Linked DNA regions of Homo sapiens: region 1 is linked to region 2. A link means that fine-mapping ties the variant in region 2 to the expression of a gene that starts in the linked region. Tissue or cell type: whole blood. Region 2 holds a variant in brackets; the other region holds the start of a gene. All regions are shown on one strand. Distances are between the middles of the regions.

Region 1 (5,572 bases), 390 kb before region 2:
ATATATATACGTGTGTGTGTGTGTGTGTGTGTGTGTGTGTGTGTATTTCCAACATGCCAGGACCTATATTAAGTGTCTACTATCTATTAGCTCGTTTAATACTCTGAAAGGCCTTATATGAATGACACTAACACCTCTTCACTGCACGTCAGAAGAAATGCAGGGCAGAAACGCGGCACAGCTTGCCTCAAGCTTCTCAGCAAGTGCCACAGCCCTTAGTCCGGAGCCAGAGTCTGTTTTTCTTTGCTAAGCCTTCTGCTCTTTAGCTTTTTTCTCTAATGCCACATCTTTCGTGTTTTGCTAATACAGATCCATGTGTGTTCTCCAAGAATCTATTCGCTTTAATTGCGCACTTAACCTTTAGGCCTCAAGATCCTCTGCTCTGCCTGTCGCCAGAGATCCAGCCCAAGAGTTTGTCCTTATAATGAAGACCCACAAACCCCAGAGGATCCCCAAGGACCTGAGTCATCTGGCCCCGCCTCTTGCTGCAGCCTTATCTGCTGCCACCATATTCTGGCCCAGCTTGCCAGCCTGCCTGGCTTCTCACTGTCATCTGGGTATGTCTTGCTCCCACCTGCTGAAGTTTACCTTGTACCTTTCATGGCTTCTGGGGGCACGGCCTTGCGGAGCCCCCCTTCCCGCTGGCCAGCTTGTGTTCACCTATCAGAGGTTTGCTCAGAGACCTCAGGTGTCTGCCCCCGACCCTGCAGCCTCATTCAGAGTCCTCTGTTATATTCCTGCAGGACTGGTGAGCGACCTTCCTTGCAGTTATTGGTTTGTAATTATATGTTTGCATGATTTCATATCCACCTCTTCTAGTTGATCTTAAGGCTCCTGGAGAAATGGGGTCCCACCTCTTTTCCTTAACATGTGTATTTTCAGTACCCGGTGCAATGTCTGAGACTCCTGGCTACAAACAGACACAATGTGTGCTCAGGGACAGATTGATTTGCCACAGGTACACCCCACCATCACTTCAAACTCGACCATACTAAAGTTATTTTGCACAGATGCAGACACTGCCTCAGACTTGTCGACTTTCTGGACGACATTAGAGACTTTAATGTACTTTATCCTGATTCAGCCTTCCACTGGATGAAGTAACATACTCTGTCAAATCATTTTGCTCCTGTCTCAGCCTCCCCCATCTGACAGGTACACCACTGAGAGGCTAAGCTTGAATTATTCCTCTGATGAGTATCTCTATAGCTTTGTCATCTCCAAGACTGGCTTTGCAACAATCCTACAACATGTGTGTATTCCTTGTAGGATCCTCATTGAACTAGGCCAGATATTTATTTAAATATTTAGAATTATTTTTGGCTGGGCTGTAAACCTATAGTTACACACACCTATGCAGGCATCTTCCCGTGTCAGGCGGTGTCTCATTTCTTTATCAAGAGGTAATTAGTGCAAGAGAAAAAAATGAAGTTTGAAAAAAACATTTAAAAATTGATTATGCCATATAAAGGGGGAAAGCCTTTTAAGAAACGATTATGGCATGAGAGGACCATGGAGTAGCTCAGTAACAATGGAAGGGGCTCGGAGGGTGGAAGGCGGGCGAGGGATGAGAGATCACCTAATGAGAACAATTTACGCTATCACAGCGATGCCTGCGCTAAAGCCTAGACTTTATGCAGTGTCTCCATGTAACAAAACTGCACTGGTACCCCAGAAATCTGCACTAAATCTATATAATGATGATGGAGGCTGGGCGCGGTGGCTCGCGCCTGTAATCCCAGCACTCTGGGAGGTCGAGGCGGGCAGATCACCTGAGGTCACGAGTTCAAGACCAGGCTGACCAAAATGGTGAAACCCCGTCTCTACTAAAAATACAAAAATTAGCCGGGCATGGTGGCGGGCGCCTGTAATCCCTGCTGCTTGCGAGGCTGAGGCAGGAGAATCGCTTGAACCCGGGAGGCGGAGGCTGCAGTGAGCCGAGATCGCGCCACCGCACTCCAGCCTGGGCGACAGAGCGAGACTCCCTCTCAAAAAAACAAAAACAAAAACAAACAAACAAAGATGGAAGGAAGGAGGGAATTTAGCAATTCTCCAGATCTACTGCCAGTGAAAATAGCATATGAGGAGGGATTCCAGTTAGAAATGCCCAGTTTCCTGGGTGTGTGTGTGACGGGGGCGGGGAACCACAACGTTAATTTTATCCCCGACATAGGGAGCGCCTGAGTGGTGGCTTTTCACCGGGTGTGGCTCGTCTGAGCTCTTGAACTGAAGCCAGCGGACACCACCCGTCGGCGCCTGCTTTCCTGGGGCGTGGGCTCCTCCCCCTGTGCAGACCGCGAGGGGAGACGGTGCGGGCGGCCGGGAGCGCAGCCCTCCGGGAGGCGGGTCATGGCCTGGGCGCCGCCCGGGGAGCGGCTGCGCGAGGATGCGCGGTGCCCGGTGTGCCTGGATTTCCTGCAGGAGCCGGTCAGCGTGGACTGCGGCCACAGCTTCTGCCTCAGGTGCATCTCCGAGTTCTGCGAGAAGTCGGACGGCGCGCAGGGCGGCGTCTACGCCTGTCCGCAGTGCCGGGGCCCCTTCCGGCCCTCGGGCTTTCGCCCCAACCGGCAGCTGGCGGGCCTGGTGGAGAGCGTGCGGCGGCTGGGGTTGGGCGCGGGGCCCGGGGCGCGGCGATGCGCGCGGCACGGCGAGGACCTGAGCCGCTTCTGCGAGGAGGACGAGGCGGCGCTGTGCTGGGTGTGCGACGCCGGCCCCGAGCACAGGACGCACCGCACGGCGCCGCTGCAGGAGGCCGCCGGCAGCTACCAGGTGAGGCGCCCCCCGGCGGGGGCTGCGGGCGCTGCGGTGACCGGGAAGCGGGCGACAGTCCGGAGCGGAGCCGCCGAGGCCACCCGTCTCCTGAGCGGCTCCCACGGCCGCTCCCCCCACCGCGCGCCGTCCCCCCCGCCCACGCGGCTCACTCAGTGTGGGTCTCTTTGCCTTGGCTGTGGTAACCCCCTTTGCGACACACACCCATTATTTTACACCGTCCGCCCCTCCCCCAAGCACTCTCCTGTCGTCGAACTCGCGCTGGGCTGGTTTCTCCCGATGCGGATAGTCTGGTCCCTCAGCTGGGCTCTGGTCGGGAGGGCTGTGTGGTCCAGTTCATTCTTGGTAACAATTGTACGTCTATATCGTAAACTTGCCATAATAATTCTCATTTGTGCAATGCTTTGCTTTTGCACAGTGTTTACATTAAATGAGTGTTGTCAGCAAAGCAACCCTCGGGTTTGGGCGTTGTTAAGAAGAGTGTCGAGCTGGGTACGGGTTCCGACCCCTCCAAAGCTCAGGTGCACGTGCCTCCTGAAGTAGGAGCGGGTGGCTCTCCATCAGCAGGGATTTGGGGACTTAGGATTCGAACATCCTCAATGAAGAGGTGCTTCATTTGGGGTGTAGCCCGGGAAGCTTCAAAGAGAAAGAAGAAAAACAAAATGGGAGTATTTGGTCCCCAGAGTGGCATCTGTGAAATTGTGTGTCGATTTCTTCCTACTGGTGCCCTTCAAAAGTTCTTGGATGTTTTCTGAACACACTTGAATCCCAGCATGTAGAACAACTGCCAGCACAGAGGAGGTCTAAGTCGTCTTTACTGACAGATTTAACCAAAGGACTGTCAGTCGCGCTGTAGTGCATTGCAAATACTTTCTTAAAATTTTTATTTATTTATTTTGTTTGTTTTAAATTAAGGTTTAGGATATTTTCCCCTTCCTTCTCTACCAATATCTCTCTTGGTATTTCTTCTTGATTTTCGTTGTCATTTGCGAGATGTAGGTACTAGTACTAGGTAATTTCTAGCTAAACTTTTCTGGAATGTTCTTGCCTTTTTAAAAAAAGTCCAGAAAGAGGATTGGTAGTAACTTTTTTTTTTTTTTTTTTTTTTTTTTGAGACGGAGTCTAGTTCTGTAGCTCAGGCTGGAGGGCAGTGGCGCAATCTCGGCTCATTGCAACCTCCGTCTCCCGGGTCCTGGTGCAAGCAATTCTCCTGCCTCAGCCTCCCGGGTAGCTGGGATTACAGGTATGCGTCACCACACCCGGCTAATTTTTGTATTTTTAGTAGAGACGGGGTTTCACTGTGTTGGCCAGGCTGGTCTTGAACTCCTGACCTTGTGATCCATCCGCCGTGGCCTCCCAAAGTGCTGGTGTTACAGGCAGCCCAGCCTCTAGTGTAATATTTCTAAAGGTGTTCTCCATATTTTCAGTAGTTCTTCGGTTAAATACCAAATAAATATTATCTAAACTCCTGAGCCTCTCAGTGAAAGCTTTCTAGGGCCCTAAGTTATGTTTCCATAGCTCTCTTGTCTTAACCAGCCAGGAAACCCAGCAAATTTAGCCGAATCACTGTTTTCCTAACTGTGCTACATCTCCTTGCTTTTGCTGACAGTTTCTTTGGCCTGAGGGAGCTTTTCTTTATCTACAAGTGTCAAAGTGCTCCGTTCTTTGTAAACACCAAAACACATGCCACTTTCCCCACTGAGTCAAATGGTATCATGAATTCTACTGTTATTTTATATATAACAATTATAATATTCTCCTTTTAAAAACAATTGATGTGTATGTAGGATTTATTGAGTAACTTTGGGAATATAATTTTTTAATTAAAATCCTGTTTATGTATGTATCTTTGTGAGTATTTAAAATACACATATTTACCTCTAGTGAGCGCCCTATCATTGAAGGAAGATTTAGTTCTCATTGTATTTTTACTCATTGCAAGGTTTACAACATACTGTGTTTTTTCATATAAAATATGATAACCTACCAAGTTCCTTCTGACCTAATAATACTACTAATACTACAATAATAAACCCATGCTTTATCATAAAGTAACCAATAACTTCAAGAAGTTGAAGTTATATAGAGAAATACAGAATACAGTTATATAGAGAAATATATAAATATAGAGAAATGTATAAATATAGTTATATAGAGAAATATATGAAATATAGAGATATAATAGCATCACTCTTCATCCAAACACCAATAGATGACATTTTATCTAATATCATTCTCATTTACATCAGCCCAGTTTTAATATATTCATTACCAGCACATTTTTTTTCAAAATTCATGTTGTTTTGTAAAATATTTTTATTCATTGGACATTATCATTGTATTTCTAGTCATTAAACATTCTGTAACATCTTATTTTAATTCTATCCAGTTAATATAATTTTTTTCTCCCCTATCTTTAATGTTTTAGTTTAGTTATGCTATCGTATATAACAATGCAGTGAGCATACTTTTAGATAAATATTTGATTGTATCTGGTATTAAAATACATTTAAGGAGCTAGGCCCAGTGGCTCATGCCTATAATCCCAGCACTTTGGAAGGCCAAGATGGGAGACTCTCTGGAGGCCAGCAGTTTGACACCAGCCTGGGCAATATAGTAAGACCCCATCTCTACAGAAAACAAAATTAGCTGAATGTAATGATGTGTGCCTGGAGTCCTAGCTGCTTGGGAGGCTGAGGTGGGAGGATCATTTGATCCCAGGAGTTTGAGGCTGCAGTGAGCCATGATCGCAACACTGCACAACCTGAGTGACAGAGCGAGACCCTGACACTAAAACTTAAGT
Region 2 (5,572 bases):
TGCAATCCAGGATGCAGTGCAAGCAACTCTGAAACTTGGACCATGCAAGTGTTAGAATCTATAGTATTAGAGCTATTATTATTGGGAAATTACATTGTGTGGCATTTATTGTATGTTTCCATGGGATAATTCAAATGAAATCAGTAAAATTCTGGAGTAAAGTCATGCTATCCACATTAAATATTTTAGACCTTTTTATTTTTAATTTTTACTTTCTGTGAGTACATAGTAGGTGTATATATTTATGGGGTACATGAGATATTTTGATACATGCATGCAATGCATAATAATCATATCAGATAATTGAGGTATCCATCATCCCAGGCATTTGTCCTTTATGTTACAAAATATCCAGTTATACTTTTAGTTATTTTTAAATGCACAATTATCATTGGCTATAGTCACTCCGTTGTGCTATCAAACACTAAGGCATTCATGCTTTCTAATTATATTTTGTACCCATTAAACATCCCCACTTATTCTTCCTAATCCCCACCCCCACTACCCTTCTCAGCCTGTGATAACCATCCTTCTACTCTCTATCTCCATGAGCCCAGTTGTTTTAATTTTTAACTCCCACCAATAAGGGAGAACATTTGAAGTCTATCTCTCTGTGTCTGGCTTATTTCATTTAATATAATAACCTCCAGTTCCATCCATGTTGTTGCAAATGACAGGATCTCATTATTTTTTACGGCTGAATAGTACTTCATTGTGTATATGTACCACATTTTCTTTATCCATTCATCTGTTGATAGACACAGTTTGCTTGCAAATCTTAGTTATTGCGAATACTGCTCCAATAAACATGGAGTGCAGATATCTCTTCAATATACTGATTACCTTTCTTTTGGATGTATGCCTAGCAGTAGAATTGCTGAATCATGTGGTAACTCTGTTTTTAGTTTTTTGAGGAACCTCCAAACTGTCCTTTATGGTGGTTGTACTAATTCACATTCCCACTAGCAGTGTAGGAGGGCTCCCTTTTCTCCACATTCTGGCATAATTTGGTATTGCCTTTCTTTTATATGAAAGTCATTTTGCCTGGGGTGAGATGATATCTCACTGTAGTTTTAATTTACACATTTCTTATGATCAACATGTTGAGCACCTTTTCATATACCTGTTTGCCATTTGTATGTCTTCTTTTGAGAAATGTCTATTCAACTCTCACCCATTTTTAAATTGGATTAATACATTTTTTCCTATAGAGTTGTTTGAGCTCCTTATATATTCTGGTTATTAATCCCTTGTCAGATGAGTAGTTTGAAAATTTTTTCTTTCATTCTGTGGGTTTTCTCTTCACTTTATTGTTTCCTATGCTATGCAGAAGCTTTTTAAATTGATGTGATCTTATTTGTCCATTTTTGCTTCAGTTGCCTGTGCTTGTTGTGTATTTTTACATTTCAAATTATTGTGAGCCTTGGGAGTAATATCTTATCTCCCATTATTTAAAATTCATGACCAACGTAACCCTGATTTCACAATCAAACAAGAAGCAAGCAAAAAGGAACTTAAAAAAAAACCCTCTACACTTTAACTTCATACCTTCACTTTGTAACTTTTTGTTGTTTCAGTTTATATCTTATTGTACTGTCTATGTCTTACAAAGTTGTTGTAGATATCATTTTTGATTGGTTCATCTTTTCATCTTTCTACTTAAGATATGAGTAGTTTACACACCACAATTACAGTATTGTAATAGTCTGTCTTTTCCTGTGTACTTACCATTACCAGAGAGATTTGTACCTTCAGATGCTCATTAATACTTTTTTTCTCTCATGTTGAAGAACTCTCTCTAGCATTTCTTGTAAGACAGGTCTGGTGTTGATGAAATCCCTCAGCTTTTCTTTATCTGGAAAAGTCTATATTTATAAAGAATTAATACAGAGAAGGAAAGGAAGTTAATAAAGCGTGTTTTATTGAGTAAGCTACTACAGAGGGCAAATCCAACCTAATCCTGTGGCTCACTTCTGAGAAAGTATATAAAATGCACACCCTTGAGAATCATTCTTGCCTGTGAGAGAGGAGACAGAACTTGATTTTCACCAGGGTTGTTCGGGGGCTTCTCTGCTGGCGATTTTTATTCTCTGGCACTTCTAGTCTGTGTACACATAGACAGAGTGAC[C/T]TTCTATGGAGATTGAAGGAATGTGGTTGCTGCTCAGAGTGCCGGCTGGAAATTCATGTGTAATTAGAAACCTCAACTGGCAACATGCGGCGTTTTTTTTGTGTGTGGGTGTCTTCATCCAAATAAGTCAATTGTAAGACATGAGATTATTGAGATTATTAAGAAATGTGCTTACAGATGTCCTATTAGATGACATTGTGGAAATACTGTTAATTGTATTTGTGTGATAAGGTATTGTGGTTAAGTACAAAGGAAGAAACTATGAATTCAAGATTAGGTATAATGAAGAAGTGATAAGATGTCTAAACAAATGGCCAGGCACGGTGATTCACGCCTGTAATCCCAACACTTTGGGAGGCCAAGGCAGGCAGATCACAATGTCAGGAGTTCAAGACCAGCCGGACCAACAAGGTGAAACCCATCTCTACTAAAAATACAAAAATTAGCCAGACATGGTGGCACACACCTATAATCAGCTACTCAGGACGCTGAGGCAGGAGAATCGCTTGAACCCGGGAGGCAGAGGTTGCAGTGAGCTGAGATCGTACCACTGCACTGGGAAACAGAGCAGGACTCCATCTCAAAACAAAACAAAACTCCACAAACATTAAATGCATTTAGATTTGTTGGGTGGATAAATATGAAACAAGATTTTTTTGATCCTTGGTAGTTCCTTAATTTTTTTTTCTTTGATGTGGTGCTCTATTTTTCAAAAATTAAAAATTTTTAAAAGAAATATGGGTATTTCAGCAAAAGAAAAAAAGGGAGTGACAGAGGGAGGAAGGGAGGAAGAAACGGAGGAAAAAGAGAAACACTCCCCGAGATGCTTTCTTGCACATTATATTTTTCACTGTGGCTGTTCAATGGAGATGTCCCGAGGAAACCCAGGCAGGGACTCTGTCTTCCTAGGTCCCTGAAGCTGCACCAACAAGCAGTACATGTCCACACTTCCAACACTGCTACAAAAACAAGAAGTAAGCTTCATTTGGATGTAAGACATTATACATTATTGTGACTAATTTTTATTACAATTAATCGGCCTCAAATAATACCACTTTTTGAACAAATGTAAATCTACTTAATTTTAATAAAATTATTGAGAAAATATTACTTATAGGGAGATATATTAAATTTAGTTCCTACTGAACAATGTACAAAAATCAACCTCAACTGTATTAAAAACACATATTGAAAACACAACAAATATTTGTTTTAAATTATAGGCAAATGTTCCCGAGCAGACATCAATTTCTTAAGCAAGTCATATAAAGTAATAACTATAAATACAATCATTGACAAATTTGACCAAGTTAAAAATTTTAAACTTTGTCCATTGATAGATACCTCAAATAGGTGGAAATTCTAGTTATGCACTAAGATGAAACAGTATACTAAATAAATATACACCTATATTTAATAATATTATTTGATTCAACTTCATATATATATATATATATATATATATACTGAAAAATAAGAAAAATATATGAGCAGTTATTTCACAGAAAAACAGACACACGTGGCCAGTAAACTTCTGACATAATTGTCAAGAGTGGTATTTTATCCCCATTCCAGCAGAAAAAATAGAAAACTCAAACAATACTGAATGTTGTTGAGTATGTTTATTAGCAAAACAATTTAGCATTGCCGACTAGAATGAAAACCGATATTGGCACTTTGGAAAAGAAATCAACACCATGTTTTATATTGGACTTTTACATTCCAAACAGTCCAACCATTCTATTTCTCTCCATAGAACCCAAGAAACTTCTTCCAGTATACTAGGAGTCACACAAAGGCATGTTCAAAAGGTTTGTTTCTATGGTAGATATATAAAATTTCTGTGTCTAAATAATATGATAAATAATTTTTCTTGTATTCACAAATTGGAATATTTTACAATAGCTGAAAGCAATATATTTGAGCAATAAAAAAATAGAATGAATCTTAATAATACCATAAAGCAAGCTCAGGAAGATTACTTGCTGCACAATAGCTTTTCTAAAATTTTATGAATCATTAAAGAATCAAAACAAAAGATGTTTAACATCTACATAAAGCTAAATGAACATGAGAATGAGAGGATGTGGAACATTGGGTTTAGGATGCTCAAAATTTTGGCAGTAGAAGTAGTGAAATGGAGTAAGGTGAGGCCACATGTTATATGTAAATTGCTATTGAGTTCTTAGATTTTATGTTGGGTGAAAGGTTCAAATGTACTTTTTAGATAACCAAAATTTAACTACTACTTAAAGGATATTTAAAGAGTCTTTGCTTCCATAATGACAGGCAATTGTAACACTTAGATGCCTATTTCAGTATGAATACAAATAGAATTGTGACATGGTAAACTGAGTGATCCAACTAGTCTTTGAAACACAAGTTTCAAAACAAACAAAACAATTTTGCTTTGTTTTGTTTTATTTTATTTTTTTTTTATGGAGAGGCCTTCCTTTACCTTCCTCTTAGTGTGTGAGCCTTCCTGTGGCCACATCTATAAAGACATGAGCTTGCCTGTGAATTTAGGCAGAAAGTACATAGAGGGAACACAGGGTATTTCAAAAAGCTCCATAAGCAACTAAATTGAGGAGTGAAGAAAAACGGACAAAAATAATGAGATTTTAAAAGGGTCTTTTGCAAATCTCACATATTCCCACTCATATATGGGAACTAAAAAAGATGATCTCATGGAGTTAGAAGATAAAATGATAGATACCAGAGACTGGGAAGAGTGTGTGTAGAAGGAGATGAAGAGAAGTTGATTAGTGGATACAAGCATACAGTTAAATAGAAGGAATATGTTCTAATGCCCGGTAACAGAGTACAGTGACTATACTTAAAAACAATGCATTATACATTTCAAAATAGCTAGAAGAGAGAACTTGAAATATTCCCAAACCCTAGAAATGATAAATACTCGAGGTGACAGACATCCCAAATCCCCTGACATTATCATTATACATTCTATGCATGTAACAGAATGTCACATGTATCCCATAAGTATACAAATATTTGCATCAATAAAAAATAACACAAAATAAAAATAAAGGGCCTTTTTTCCTGGCATTGATCACCGTATGTATTTCCTTCAGGGAGGCATCTAAGTGAGTGGCTATGAGAATCAATGTGTGAAGATGAGCTTCTGAGTCTTTGCATCAGTATGCTCATGATTTATACTAATCTACAATGCCTTAGCACTCTCATGCCTACCTATCATTGAAAGTAAAATATTATCAGTAATATACTACAGCAGTAATTAGGGATGAAAAGGATCTCAGAAAAAAATGGTTTAATACCTCTCACCCCTTTTTGTACAAATATAGATATAAATAAAATTATTGCCTGAAAGATTATCTAGTGGGTTATTATTTATAATATTCTTAAATGCCTGTACATTAAAATATTAAGAAGCAAAGAGAGACTAGAATTAATATCATCTCAACA

What was found. PIP is the estimated chance that this variant, and not a neighbour inherited with it, causes the effect. A credible set is the group of variants that fine-mapping cannot tell apart.
Region 1: it holds the start of TRIM58, and the variant in region 2 is the best candidate, but not a certain one, in a credible set for the expression of TRIM58 in whole blood (TOPMed, PIP 0.50).

Annotation. Positions count from the first base shown.
Region 1 is chr1:247,854,898-247,860,469 of GRCh38, forward strand. TRIM58 (tripartite motif containing 58) reads left to right here and starts at 2,290. Exons shown (of 6, transcript NM_015431.4): 1 at 2,290-2,769. The coding sequence starts at 2,350. RefSeq lists a cis regulatory region at 203-767.
Region 2 is chr1:248,245,583-248,251,154 of GRCh38, forward strand. No RefSeq gene overlaps it. Among named protein-coding and RNA genes, the nearest start is that of OR2M4, 17 kb to the left of the region's middle. The variant C/T (reference allele first, on the strand shown) is at 2,129.